Linked DNA regions of Homo sapiens. The protein of the gene in region 1 purifies or fractionates together with the protein of each later gene. This does not show direct contact. Each region holds a gene or a part of one and is shown in the gene's direction. Other genes may lie near its edges. The genes, in order: RASSF6 and KDM3A.

Region 1 (7,351 bases):
AGGAGCTTAAGAGGAGAGAGTGTCGATTCTTTTGCAGCAAATATACAAACAGGAAAAATGAGTCGTGATCTTTGTGACGTCAGCCTAAGAATTTCTACTGGGAAGCTCAGGTGAAGCAGAAAATTTTTGAGTTCCACCACACCAGTAATTCCAGAAGATGCTGTCGGCAGACTGAGCAGCGCCTCCCAGACCCAGTGGTGGCAAGATGCCTTAAGTGCCTTAATACAAATTTGCTTCTCTGACCGTTTCTGCTTTCTTTATCTCCCTGAGGGCACCTTGAGCAGAATAAAATGCATGGCATTAGTACCATGTAAATATGCAATAGAACAGTAAAGTTTTGGCATTTCCAATTAGATTCCACTTGAACTGAGGGCAGTGGCATGCTCACATAGAAGTGTGTTTGATTCATATTCTGCTTAGTCCTCTCTTAGATTCAATGATTATAATACATTATTTCTATCTCAAAACCAACAATCACTGACTGCAACCAATATTACTTAATTAAGTGATAGTTTGTATATATGCCAACTCTTGACCTTTACTGTCTCTGCAAATAAAGCACATTTTAAGAAAAAGTATGGAGCCAAATGTTTCCCAGAAACCATCACTCTGTTAACTCTTTTCCTTTTTTGAGAGAACTAGATACTGGATGGAATTATAGATGCTTTGTCTCATTTTCTTGAAGTGATGTAATTGCATATAACTCTGCTCTTCTCTACTCCAAGGTTCCAGGTCATAACTTTGAGAAAACAGTTTCGTTTTGGAGATGAATACATAATTGTAACTTTCTATTGCTTCTTCAAGCTGAAACAATATTTTATTAAAAAGACTCTCCGTGTGTACAGCCCTTAACATACTCTTATCTCATAATTGAAATACACACTTGCTATTCTAGTGTGATACTTTCTGTTCTTTTTTTAAGTAGCTTTTACTGGGGACGTGGGTGAGAGAGATGTAACATATATTCCTTGTCTATGATTTAGACAGTACATACAAAATAAAAAAAGAAATAATTATCACACATAATCTCTTAGCTCTTAATTTTACCATTAATATTATAATATACCTCTCTGTATGTTGGATGTATTCAATATTTTGTGTATGTTTTATCTATATGCCTGCATATATTCACTCACTTTAGAAGACACAAAAATGAAATAGCAATAATTCTGTCCTAAAGGACCTAGTAATCAAATTAAGTAAAATAAAATATGGTTAGAGAGAGAAAGCAGTAAGTAATTAGAAAGCTACAGAAAATTTCCTGTGAAATTTCAGAAGCAAGAGAAATTGTCTTTGGCTGGGAAATACAGGGAAGTTAGCACCTGTATATATATGTATAGATAGATAGATAGATAGATAGATAGATAGATAGATAGATAGATATAGATATATGTATATATATTAGTTCTTTGTAAAATCATTAGCATTATGACACTTTGTGCACCTTGTGGCCTCAGAAATAAGAGGCTATAGATATAGATACAGGCTATACTTTCTGTGCCTAGCACGGTAGCAGGTGCAGAGAAGGAACTCGTGAAATATTTGTTGAATTTACAAACGAGTGAACCCAATTTTCCACTTTTAGATATGTAACCATTTAATTAACTCATGGTTGGATAACAGGAAGTTACTTTAAATGACTGACCCATTTGATTTAATTTGTACTAGAATTCACTTCCTGTCCTCTGGCCTCATTCTGGTCACAAGGCAACTGGTAAGTCCAGGCAAGCCCACCTCTAGGCAGGAATGCAGAGCAGGGGGAGGTGAACCACGTTCCAGCATTGCTGGAACGCTAATGCTGCCCAACACTGCCTCCTCAGGCTCCATCCAGATCTCATTGGCTTGTTCAGACCAATTCTACCTCTCCTATACTTCTAGTGCTGTTGATTTCTCCAGGACTTAATTGCTGACCTATCTAATTCCCTGTTTCTCCAGCTTCATTGTTTCTGGACAAAATGAAAAAGTAAATAACCAAACTTATTAAATAATGATCTTATTTTACACACAATCTAAGTCAATAATCTCTGGCCCCAGGGCCTACATAGATTTGTAACAACCATCTTCCTCCTCAAGTTGTAGTTTATTATGTTCTACCAAAATTACTGAACATCCCAAGTAAGACCTCCAGGCTTCTAGAACTGTAATTTTTTCTTTCTTCATAAATTCTCTCCCTCGTTGCTATTCATGACTTCTCTGTTATTCTCCTCTTAAGTCCTTGAGAAAATTTGCTCAGATGCTTATATCTACCAAGTCTTTATAATTTAGGAGATTTTCACAAGGGCCCTAGCAGGTTTTAGTTTGCTATGAATCATGGTGAATGGGAATGGGAAGATGAGGATGAAAAACTATTTGAATTCATAGATCTATGCCTCACTTCATTGTTTTTGTTTGTTTATTTGTTTTGCTCTTTTTTTTTTTTTTTTTTTGAGACAGAGTCACACTCTATCACCCAGGCTGGAGTGCAGGGACACAATCTTGGCTCACTGCAACCTCCATCTCCCAGGTTTAAGTGATTCTCGGGCCTCAGCCTCCCAGGTAGCTGGGATTAAAAGTGTGTTCCACCACACCCGGCTAACTTTTGTATTTCACTTCACTGTTAATACTAACAATGGGACTTTTACCAAAGCATGTTCTTACCTTTCAGGTATTTAAACTGTTTGAATATTTTATTTACCCAATTTTTAGATCAGACATGAATAATATTATTTCCTACTCAAATATTATGTGCTGCCTATGAATGAAAATTTTATCCTGTTTTTATTTTCTTACATTAAATTATATTCAACTTTCTTCCTTCCTAAAGTCAGAAAATAATATAAGAGCCTTGGAAACCCTTTCATCACATCTTCTGAAGTCTTCTGAAGCTGGCTATGAGTTACCTCAGCATAGATCAACAGTGTGTCACTATAACTACATTGCAATTATTTGCCCTCTTTAATGATATCTTTGATATTTCTTATGAATGCAAATAAAGAGTGAGCCAGTTGGAAAGCTACTGCAATGATTTTTCAGTCCATCACTGCCAATTTTCACTTTGTAATTATAAGAAGCTGCTATCAGTGGTTCTTCAGTTCCAAATATCCCCAGTGTCTGGTGAGGGAAGCAAGCTGTCTGGTTCTTAGATGGTCTTTTTGCTATGCTCTGACATGGTGGAAGGGTCCAGGCAGCTTCTGGGGTCTCTTTTATAAGGGCACTAACCACATTCATGAAGTCTCCACCATCATGAACTAATCACCTCCTAAAGTCCTCACCTGTTAATACTATTGCATTGGGGGTTAAGTTTCAACATCTAGGTTTTGTGGGGACACAAACATTCAGACCACAACAGAGGGAGGCCCTCTAGTAGGCTGACGCAATAATCCAGGAAAAAGATGATGGTGGCTTGGCTTAGGGTAGTAGCAGTGGAAATCAAAGCTTTCGAATTTGGAATATGTTAGTGGTACAGTGAATAGGACTTACTTTTGGATTGAATTTGGCTTATGATGAAAGAGGGAAAAAATGAGACTAAATATTAGTTTTGATGCCTAGATGGGAAAGAATTGTGGAGGAGGAAATTTTAGAGCATGGGAGAAAGTCAGTGGTTCTTTTTCAGCCATGTAGATATCGAGATGCCTGGTACACATCTAAGTAGAGATTAGGTAGGTGGTGACATGCGTCTGGAGCTCAACAGAGATTATGGGATGGAGACAGATTCGATTACCTGGAAGAATGTATAGATAGAGAAGAAAGGATGGCTGAGAATGGACACTCAAACAAGCCAGTATTTAGTGATCATACAAAGGAGGAATCAGCAAAGGAGACTAGTGTTGAGGCCTGTGAGATAGCAGGAAAATAGAGTGAGGTGATTGTTATTCATGGTTTGTCTCAAAAGCATCAAGAAGAAAGTGTTTTAAAAGGTAGGAAAATCAATCTTGTCAAATGTTGCTAAGAGGCCGAGAAATGAGGAGAGAAGTGAACTCTTTGGCAAGGTATAGGCTCTTGGAACATGGATGGAGAGGTGGAGGTAGGGCTAAATTAAAGGAATATATGATAAATAATCTGGACCCAGGAGGAAGAAGGAAGTGTTTGGACCCCAGGGTCATCACTGGGGGATTTCAGTCGGGGACATTAATAACCCTTTTGGTGGGTTATTAGAATGACAAAATCCAGGGGCAAAACTCAAGTTTGAGAAGCTGGAGGAACCTGTGTAACCTGTATAACCAAGTTGCCCAGACCAAATCCTGTGAATAAGTAACTGGGATTCACTGGGCTCATGGAGCATGTTGTGTCTGTGTGCCCAAGGCAGCATAAAATGCCCATGTGGCTTCTGACGTATAGAATTACTTTGCCTGGTGACTAAGCTTCTGTGTCTCTGGTATGAGTCCTCCAGGTGTCCTGCATGAGACCTGCCAATGATGTGCTATCAGAGGATGCCATTTCCAACTAGAGAAGCACAATTCTTTGAGCAAGAAGATAGCAATAGAAAAGAAAGTAAGGTATAAATCAATAATGACAATACAAGGTAGAAAGCAGAATGATGACAACAGTGTGGATTCAAAGGACATGGGGAGACTTTAAGATTTCCCACTGGGGACTAAAAGGGACCAGATATCTGGACCTGCAGTGAGGAGGGCCCTCTGCTGCCAGGGGAAATGGGTGAGAAAAGACTCAATGACATGAAATTTCATTAGATTACAAGGCCTGGTGTTGAAGAAATGTTTCAATTTGGAGCCTGGAAAGGTAGGTTTGAGTGGAATTGAAGAAAACTTGAGAGTCAGGTTAAGGGACTTGGGCTGTATTTATTAAGAAAGATACCAAGATGGTTTGTGACCAAATAGGTGATGGGATGATCGGAATGATAAAAGCCTAAAATGAGACTCCAGCCAAGCATTCACCCTGAAAACTGTAACAAAGTACCTAGTGAGTTTAACAACATGCTATAAAGAAAAATATGCATCAGAGATTTTATGAGAATAGAAGAATAGCTTTCCTGTTTTCTTTTTTTCCTGGTACTCTGAAGAGTTAGGACATATAATTTCCTAATTTTTATTCATCTTACCCAACCCAAATAACCAGATTTGAAAGGAAAAGGAGGAAATCCACCCCCTTATACACAACGTTTTTTTTTTTAAAAAAAAAAAAAAAAGAAAACTGAACTCTCTCATCCATCTTTTTTATTCTGGCTCTATCCCCTAAAATCTTATAGACTTGGAGCCATGATAACTGAATATTCAATTTTTGCAAAATGGAATGAACAGAAAATATTATACTTTACATCTCTGGTCACACCCTAATGCCATTTATATGAACATATAAAGGAGGAGATTATTCACATCTGACCACAGTTTCCAGAGCTTGAAGGAGACTTGAAAAATATTACATCATACCTAATCAACTCTTCAAGTCAGAGCTTGATTTTAGCTGCCTAGAATTGCAGTTGTCTTCTGCTGATTGGGGCAAGGTTCAGCCAGTTTGGGTGAGTTATTGCAATAGAAGGAATATGCTCCCTTATACAGAATTATATAAATCAATAGAGTCATATTTATTTTGCTAGAAATATATCTAAAACAGACTTACCAAATTGTTCAATCCATCCGTGTCTGGAGTTACTGTTTCTGTAGTTTTTCATTTACATAATACATTTTTCTGTATTTTTGCTCACACATGACATACTACTTAAAAACTTTCTAAAACCTTCTTATACTCTAGAGACACAACAAAACACTCAACTTAAATCAGAAACTAATTTTTTAATGCATTATAGGAACAAATCATTAATATTATTCTCATGTTTAGGATATCCTCAGACCATCTCAAAAAGGAGGAAAAGATGACTATGATGGCTCACCAGTACCCCTCTTGGATCTTCATTAATGAGAAGACATTCATAACCAGGTAACCACACACCTTATATTATACATTGTCCTACTCACCAGTCATTTGTGGAATATACCGTCAAAGTTTTCTAAGCATGATGTATGGTCAACAAGATCAATAATATGAATCATCAGTAGAGATACTAGATAAGAAGTTGGAAAAGTATGTTCCTAAAGACTCTCAAATTTACTCTCATGGAACAATCACTAATATTTTGTTTAACAGTGGTTTTACTTTATTAAAAGCAACATTTCTGTTTTAATAGTTGGGATAATATTGAAGAGCAGCATTAGGTGAAAGATCTAAGGCTTCTCATAAATGATAGTTCTAAAGAATTAACCCCAGGGCCAAAAACATTATGTCCTGTCCTAACCTCTCCATCCCTTGCTCCTCATGACACTTTATTTTTACTGGTTCCCTCTTGACATTAGATTATGCAATATATGGCCAACATCCACAGCTTTTCTTGTACGCAGCAAACAGTATCTCATATTGCTTTGGGAACAATAGAGTAAGGGCTTAAAAGCTATAAGAGTAGAGATGAAAACTGAAACTGGCCAAGCTACAGCAGAGGCTGGGGGCTGAGAGGAGATGAAATCATGAAAAAATAAGTGGTACTGAAACATGACCCAAATCTTATGGGGGGTGGAAAAAGGAAAAAAGCCAAATAAATGACAGAGAGAAGGAGAAGTGAATGATGCAGGGTTGGGCAGTAGGAAAGTGAAGGAAACAAATATGATCAAATATGGAAATAAAGCCACAGCTGAAAGATAAGGATGAACTATAAGCAGTGGGAAAAAGACCTGATGCAAAGGATAAAGGATCCACTGACTTATTCCTCAAACACTTACTGATTACTCACTGTGAGCAGGTGTATTTTTGGACCCTGAGCATTCAGTAATGAACCAAACAAAACCCTTACTCTCATGGAGTTACATCATAAAGTCGGGATGCAGTCAATACATAAGATAAATGCTGAGGAAATGGAGTAAAGAGTGCTAGAGATAGAGAGCGGAAAGGGTTCTGATTGCATATAACCTAGTTCCTTCCTCAGTGAGCGGGAAGCACTGGAGGAAAAGCCTGCAGAAAGGGAGAAAGCAAGCCATGCAGCTTTCGCAGGTATTCCAGGCAAGGGGAATGGCAACTCCACAGCCCTAAGGCAGATGCATATTTGTAAGGGTCAGGGAGAACAGTGTGGGGAAATGGAAGTAGAAAGACAGCAGGAGAAGAAGCCAAATGGGCTCAGAACATGTAGGGTTTGATAGGCCATTATGAGGCTTGATCTTTCCCACTAAATAAGATGAGAAGCTGTGGAAGGATATTGAGCACATGAGTGGCAATATCAGTCTAGCTGCTGTGTTAAGAACAGAGTAGAGAGGGGACAAGAGTGGAAACAGAGAAGTTACCAAGGAGCTGACAGTCCAGGGTGGAGATGAAGGTTGCTTGAACCAAGGTGGCAGCAGTAGAGGTAGAAAACAATGGTCAGATTCTGGAT
Region 2 (7,351 bases), on another chromosome or scaffold:
GAGCAGAAGACTTGTAATATTTGGAGTCAGAACTGAATTTGAGTTCTTTTCCTTCCACGTGCTAGTTGTGTTACTTTGGCTGAAGTGAGCTGGTTTCTATGTGCTTCAGCTTCCTCATCAGTAATATAGAAATAAGAAGCAATATTGATGATTGGGCATCACAGAATTACATCACATGTAAAGAGAGGGCCTGGACCACAACAGGGGTTTGAATATTTTTTTTCCTCCTTCTTATGTATGTATAAACTCACTCTTGCCAGTTTTTAAAATTATTTTCTTCTACAGCAGTCATCTTAGATTTAATTTATGGGTTCTTTTAAGAGCTCATCACATTTTTAAAGCTAAGTCAAAATAGCATTTTCTCTTTCTCTGCATCCCATTTCCTTCTGAAATCACCGCTTTACCTTTCCTGCCTGCGTCATTTATTCGTTTTTAACCATGTTTTCTGTGCCTATCCTGAATTCTGGGATGAGTTCATAGGGGAGACAGGCACAAACTGGTCATTTTAAACCAGCATGGTACATAGAGTAATAGGGATATGTACCAGCAGGGGCTGGTGAAAGGGTGCGGGGGGTAATACCTTGCTGTGTTTAAGTTGCTGACATCTCTCCTACCTTTTAGTTATTCTCTACTAGTGCGGGATTACTGCAGCTGTGGGGATACCCAGGGCTAACTATTAGGTGGTTTTGTTCTGGATATTTATCTTACTTGTTGGTCGGCTATTAGGAGAGAAGAAAAGAAAAGGAAGCTGTCATTCTTCAGCTTATGTAAAATCGTCCTTTAATGCTTAACACAGACTTCTTTAGCTGGAGAAAAACCGACTCTTGGTGCAGTGCTCCAGCAGAATCCCTCAGTGTTGGAGCCAGCAGCTGTGGGTGGGGAAGCAGCCTCCAAGCCAGCCGGCAGCATGAAGCCTGCCTGTCCAGCCAGCACATCTCCTCTAAACTGGCTGGCCGACCTAACCAGCGGGAATGTCAACAAGGAAAACAAGGGTGAGTGTTTCCTGCTTTTGTGTTTGTTCTTGAGTATTTTAGTCCATTCGTGGAAGGACTTGAGAGAACAGTGGTTAGAAGTCGTGTGGAATGGAAAGTGCTTCTCTGGAGTCATCCTGGAACCTGCCACAAATGAAAGTGTTTTTGAAATGCAGCACCAAAGAGGAGAAATTTTGCTGCATTAAAATTTAGGGACTTCCACCTTCTGGCTGTGTTACAGAAGAGAAGAATTGCAGGCCACTTCTTTCATGCAAAGATCTGGAGCAAAATTTTAATGAATCAAATTTGACACTGTAAATGAAGGAATATTTGAATGTTAGACTACATCTGAATTTCTGGAAAAACCTTTATATAGCTTTAAAAATGTGATAAGGAGCTCTTAAAAGAACTCATAAATTAAGTCTAAGATGACTGTTGTAGAAAAAAATAATTTGAAAAGCTGGCAAGAGCACAGCTGGTGAGTTTATACATACCTTAGAAAGAGGAAAAGGAATATTCAAACTCCTGTTGTGGTCCAGGCCCTCTCTTTACATGTGATGTAATTCTGTGATGCCCAATCATCAATACTGCTCATTATTTCTGTATTACTGATGAGGAAGCTGAAGCATATAGAAACCAGCTCATTTGAGCCGAAGTAAGACAATTAGCAAGTGGCCGGAAAAGAATTCAAGTTTTTCAAGGTTTTTCCAGAAATGAAGATACAGTCTGACATTCAAAAATGTAGAAGAATCATGGGACAAGATGCAGGAAAACATTAAGTAAAATTCAGTACCTGTTAATGATTTACAAAAAACTTCTTAAATTAAGAACATTCTTAATCAAGAGTTTAAACCAAAAAACAAGACTGGAGACATCATAAATAGTCGTTGAATTTTTTTAAAAATTTGTTTTGAGTTTTTTTGAGACGGAATCTTGCTCTGTCCAGCCAGGCTGGAGTGCAGTGGCATGATCTTGGCTCACTGCAACACTGCACTCTGCCTCCCAGGTTCAAGCCATTGTCCTGCCTCAGCCTCCTAAATAGCTAGGATTATAGACGCCTGCCACCACGCCCTGCTAACATTTGTATTTTTAGTAGAAGTGGGGTTTTGCCATGTTGGCCAAGCTGGTCTTTGAGGTTTTTGTTTGTTTGGTTTTGTTTTTTTTTTTTTAAACAGTTTCTGTGTTCAAGAACAAGACAAAGGATATCTGTTTTCACTCTTTATTAAGCATTGTACTGGAAGTCCTGGTCAGTGCATTCAGGGAAAAAAAATGTGTAAAGAGAATGCTGCCAATATTTGTAGACAGTACATGCAAAAAATCCAAAAGAATCTACATTTACTAAACATTTGTCAGGGTTGCTAGATACAAAGGTCAATTTACAAAATTCCATTGTACTGGATAGTTATTGTTTTTAACATCAGTGAGGAATCGTCTAAGTAAATCATATCATTCATACTTACTCCCTAAAGTATTTTTTTTGTTTCAGTAAATAGAAAGCAAGTTCTAAAGTAATTCTGCTAGTAGAATACTAATAAGGGATTTGCCTTTCAGAATGTTTTTTCATCTGGATGTTTTGGTTTTATTTTAGAAAAACAACCAACAATGCCAATTTTAAAGAATGAAATCAAATGCCTTCCACCCCTCCCACCTTTAAGCAAATCCAGCACAGTCCTCCATACGTTTAACAGCACAATTTTGACACCCGTAAGCAACAACAATTCTGGTTTCCTCCGGAATCTCTTGAATTCTTCTACAGGAAAGGTATGTGTTTGTTTGTTGGTATTCCATGTTTTAAAGTTGAAGACAGAACAGGAAGAGAGTAGAGAAGTTGGAACTGAAAGTAGAAAGGAGACTGAATCACATACTTACCTTTGTGGGTTCAGAAGGCTGAGTCACTGGAGGATGGGTTTTATGGGACTATAGTTCTGAGCTGGGCCACTTTCTCCTGTTACCTCACTTCTATGAGTTGTCAAGTGGGGACAGGGGACGTACCTTTTTGCCTGGGGGTCCTGGCTTGGAATCTTCTGGATATGTAATCTATACTCATTATGGGAATGGAGTTTCTTGATGGTAAGGGAATGACATATTTGAGACTTTTGTTCTTTCTCCAATTCAGACAGAAAATGGACTCAAGAATACACCAAAAATCCTTGATGACATCTTTGCCTCTTTGGTGCAAAATAAGACGACTTCTGATTTATCTAAGAGGCCTCAAGGACTAACCATCAAGCCCAGCATTCTGGGCTTTGACACTCCTCACTATTGGCTTTGTGATAATCGCTTGCTGTGCTTGCAAGACCCCAACAATAAGAGCAACTGGAATGTGTTTAGGGAGTGCTGGAAACAAGGGCAGGTAATGTAGGCCTCCCATCCTCCTGCCCTATTCAGAACCCCCTTCTCAGTTCCTTTAGCAGACTTCTGACAACCCCACCCCAGGCTTTCCCCCTCCTTCACCTCCTGTTTTATTCTTTATTGTTTCAGGTGAATATAATCAGGTCAGGATGTGGCCATGGGTCTTACTTTTTAAAGCAGATGGTCCTAAGCTGGACTTTTCCAGTCAGGTTTTTGTTGCTTCCTACCAGTCCCTGTTGGGTTTTTGACGAGGGCATCCAGGCTTGGTGATTCCTATGGTAAACTTCAGCAGAGGAAGTGAGGGTGTGACTACAGGCTGATGGGATTTGGGAGATCAGACAAAATGTGCTACAAAATCATGCACCCCTCTTACCTGAATGAAAAGCCTGTGCTGAAGGCAGTTCTAGGTGGGCTAGGGCCGCGTGGTGTCACATAGTCCCCAGGTGCCTGCTTCAAAGGGCAGTGTTGTTGGATCTTAAGTGCCGGTTAATATCTTTAGGAGAATTTCTAGGCCTGCTTCTGTGCTTTCTTGTTTTGGTTCTGTTTTCTGGATCTCTGGCTTCTCTGTTTGGCCAGATAGGGTCTTTGCTAAAGGAACACTCTGCTCTTGGACAAGAATTTGGGAGAATTGCCAAACAGAAAGATGTGAGTGTTTAACCAAAAATAAATTTCCAAAATGTTTTTCTCCATCCAGTGTACTAATAGGATTTGCTCATTTAATCATATATAGACAAGAAACAAAATGATGGGCTGAATACAGTTTATCGGCAGGCTTTCTTTCTTGCTTGTCAATATTTTAATGTTAGACTATTTCACATAAAGGTTAGAGCTTCTGGGTTGTCTTAGACGGCCAAAAGATTTGGCACCCTCACACAGCCAGTAGTAGTGAGGGGTGTCACAGGCCATATTCCTGCTTGGCAATAACAGGCTCAAGTACGGTGGGGTCAGTCACCCTGTTTCACTGGTGACTGGTGTCACTGGACACTCCTTCCAGCGCTTGTCTTCTTCACAGTCCGTCTTGCTGTAAGTAATGAGATCTTACTAGGAGAGGTGATCCTTTCTCCTAGATGCTTACCCATGTAGTTTGAGAGCAAGGGTGTGTAGCAGATGAATGGTGAAGGTTGGAGGTGCTTTGGGAGCTCAGAGAACTAAGCCGAAACTGTCACATCACCATCTGAGACGGAGCACCAGCTCCATGGAAATATACCAATAGCAGTGTGAAGAGGGACTGCCTTCGGGAGTGGGGACAGAGCTGGCAGAGTTCAGACTAAAGTTTTCCTTCTCTTCATTTAGCCAGTGATGGTGTCTGGAGTGCATCATAAATTGAACTCTGAACTTTGGAAACCTGAATCCTTCAGGAAAGAGTTTGGTGAGCAGGAAGTAGACCTAGTTAATTGTAGGACCAATGAAATCATCACAGGAGCCACAGTAGGAGACTTCTGGGATGGATTTGAAGATGTTCCAAGTATGTATGAAAGATCTTTTAAGGGGGTTGGGGATGTGAAAGGAGGGGACACAGGAATGGCAGGAGTCTGAGACCCATCAGTGGCAGCCGCAGCATTTTCCAGGATTTTGGAGTTTAAAATTAACGTCTCTCCTCCCCTTCCTTGTTACAATGTTTATGCTTTTAAACACTGAGGCATTATTACCTGTTCTGTTGGTCTTTGTTGTCCCTGGACAGAACATCAGATAGGGTCAGTCTCTCTCTCTGAGCAGAATAAGTAATTTCTGTTGCATGCTGGCCTCAGAAAAATGGGTTTACTAAACACCTGTGACCCTTGATGGTTGACGTGCATTGCTGTTGGTTAGTTGGGATGCTGCTCACTTCTTCTGGAACACTGTAGAGGAGGAGCAGATTGGATCGATGACAGCTGTTGAAATACCACCTACATGCAGTGGGCAAAAGGGAGCGGCTGAATCTCCCAAGAATGAGTAGCAGCTTAATAAGCTTCTAGGAAAGACAAGGCCCTGACACAGATCCATTAGTTGGTGATCTTTATTTTGCTGCACCTTGCTGCCTCCTGGGTACAAATGGATTTTTTTACACTGCAGAAATAAAATGGTGGATAGTTGGTAGGAGGGGAAAATTAAGGAAAAGTAATATTTGTATACTAAATTTATCAGGTTATGAAAATTTTGCAGAGACATATTTTATTTGTATTGTTGAGGCATAAAATGCTAATTTGTCATTTATTTTGGTCTGTTTCTGAATTATAAATAGTAATAGTTCATTCTGTTTACCTTTCAGATCGTTTGAAAAATGAAAAAGAACCAATGGTGTTGAAACTTAAGGACTGGCCACCAGGAGAAGATTTTAGAGATATGATGCCTTCCAGGTATGATTATGAAGGTGGGGAGAGATGATTCTGTCCTTCACTTGGTAGGATAAATTCTTTTTTGAGGTAGTGAGAAAACAGTTTTCAAGAAAATAACAAAAGTTCTGTAATTATACTGCCACTGATTTTTCATTTCTAGTCTGTAGTCATTGGAGGCATGTTTATTTTTAGATGAGATGAAGAAGTGATTGGCTTTTAGGCCTGGCTGACTAATGGAACACCACAGATTTTCCATGGTAGGCCCTGCTAGAGAAGAGGCTCACTTTTTCTTACAAGGCTGATTTGGAGGCAGTTGTGGAATCTGACCTGTCAGGGTCAGGACAATGTAGTCACAGCACTGAGTTAGACAAGAAGACATCTACTGGGTAGATCTATTTTCCTGACTGAGCTTGAAACTTTGAAAAGGGTGTCACAACTAATCAATGATATATCTCTAAGAATAACTTTTTGTCTAGAATTTATTGCTGAGATCTTTTGTCTGAACGGTTACAGCTGATTTTGACACATTGGTGTGTTGTAGGAGAGAGAGAAGACATCTTTGTAACTGCTGTACTTCTCATCTTAAATATTTGATGGCTGTCAGTCTGCATGATCACAGATGGATTTGTTCCTTTTGGTGTAGAAGGAACAAAACAGGTTACACAATAATGAATTAGAAAAGCAATCTAACTTTGCAAATTCCTGGTTCTGTTGTTCTAGGTTTGATGATCTGATGGCCAACATTCCACTGCCCGAGTACACAAGGCGAGATGGCAAACTGAATTTGGCCTCTAGGCTGCCAAACTACTTTGTTCGGCCAGATCTGGGCCCCAAGATGTATAATGCTTATGGTAAGGAGGAGATGGCTAACTTTAAAATGGAAATAAAACAATTCAAAATGTTTGGAAAATTGATTTTGTGGGAGGGAGAGGTGGAAAACACCCATAATCCTAATGCGTAATACAGCCACAGCTTTCATTTTTACATATTTCCTTTCGTTCCCTGGCCACATGTTTGTGTGTTTCTTTTCATAGTTGCAGTTGTAGGGCATATGCAATTTTGTGTTTTTCCCTTTACTGTACCTAATTTTACATTGTAAAATCTTTACATGTTACTTAATAGTCTTTAGATGACTTTTAATGGTGTGTGATACATCATTGAGAGAATGTACTTTTATTAGTGATTTCAGTGTTCGGACATTTAGGTCAATCTGCTGGCATTCTAGCTGTCTTAACATCTGCTACAATTAAATGCAGTGTTCTGTGTTGTTGAGTAGAAGTTAGTTACTTAGGATTCAAAGTACCCTTTGAGTTGGACTTTTATTCTTTTGACATGACTCAATACTCACTGTCTAACAAGGAGGATGCCTGGGATAAAGATTGGTTTCTCCATTTACCAGAGCTTTCTTTCATCATCATTATAACTGAGATCTTCGTCAGTTTTACACATGGCCTTTAATTAGGGCTGGATTCGAGTTGGCCATTTTGAAGGAAGTATGTATTGTTGAATGCAGTTCTAGTTGTTTGAATATTTCAGTGAATTTTATTTACTCATTTTTACTATTTGGCCCCTACTTTTCCAGTCCTCCTGGAAATTACTTATTTCTTCCTGCCATAATTACTTCCATGTCATTTTCCATTTCTAGCCTTAGACCTGTGGGTGTCTTTCTCAAAAAGGACAAGGTCTGTTGTTGTCTTCGCTATGTTCTCCAAA

The links.
Region 2: the proteins of RASSF6 (region 1) and KDM3A purify together in Homo sapiens (affinity purification with mass spectrometry; 3 studies listed by BioGRID and IntAct, with this or other methods). This does not show direct contact.

What each region holds. Positions count from the first base shown.
Region 1 is NC_000004.12:73,610,254-73,617,604, reverse strand, and holds part of RASSF6 (ras association domain-containing protein 6), read left to right. Parts: intron 1-1,668; coding exon of another isoform or gene 1,669-1,714; intron 1,715-4,361; exon of another isoform or gene 4,362-4,475; intron 4,476-5,775; coding exon of another isoform or gene 5,776-5,809; coding exon 5,810-5,874; intron 5,875-5,928; exon of another isoform or gene 5,929-7,351.
Region 2 is NC_000002.12:86,479,371-86,486,721, forward strand, and holds part of KDM3A (lysine-specific demethylase 3A), read left to right. Parts: intron 1-796; coding exon 797-992; intron 993-2,559; coding exon 2,560-2,732; intron 2,733-3,087; coding exon 3,088-3,324; intron 3,325-4,616; coding exon 4,617-4,788; intron 4,789-5,571; coding exon 5,572-5,659; intron 5,660-6,358; coding exon 6,359-6,489; intron 6,490-7,351. UniProt on the Homo sapiens protein: Histone demethylase that specifically demethylates 'Lys-9' of histone H3, thereby playing a central role in histone code.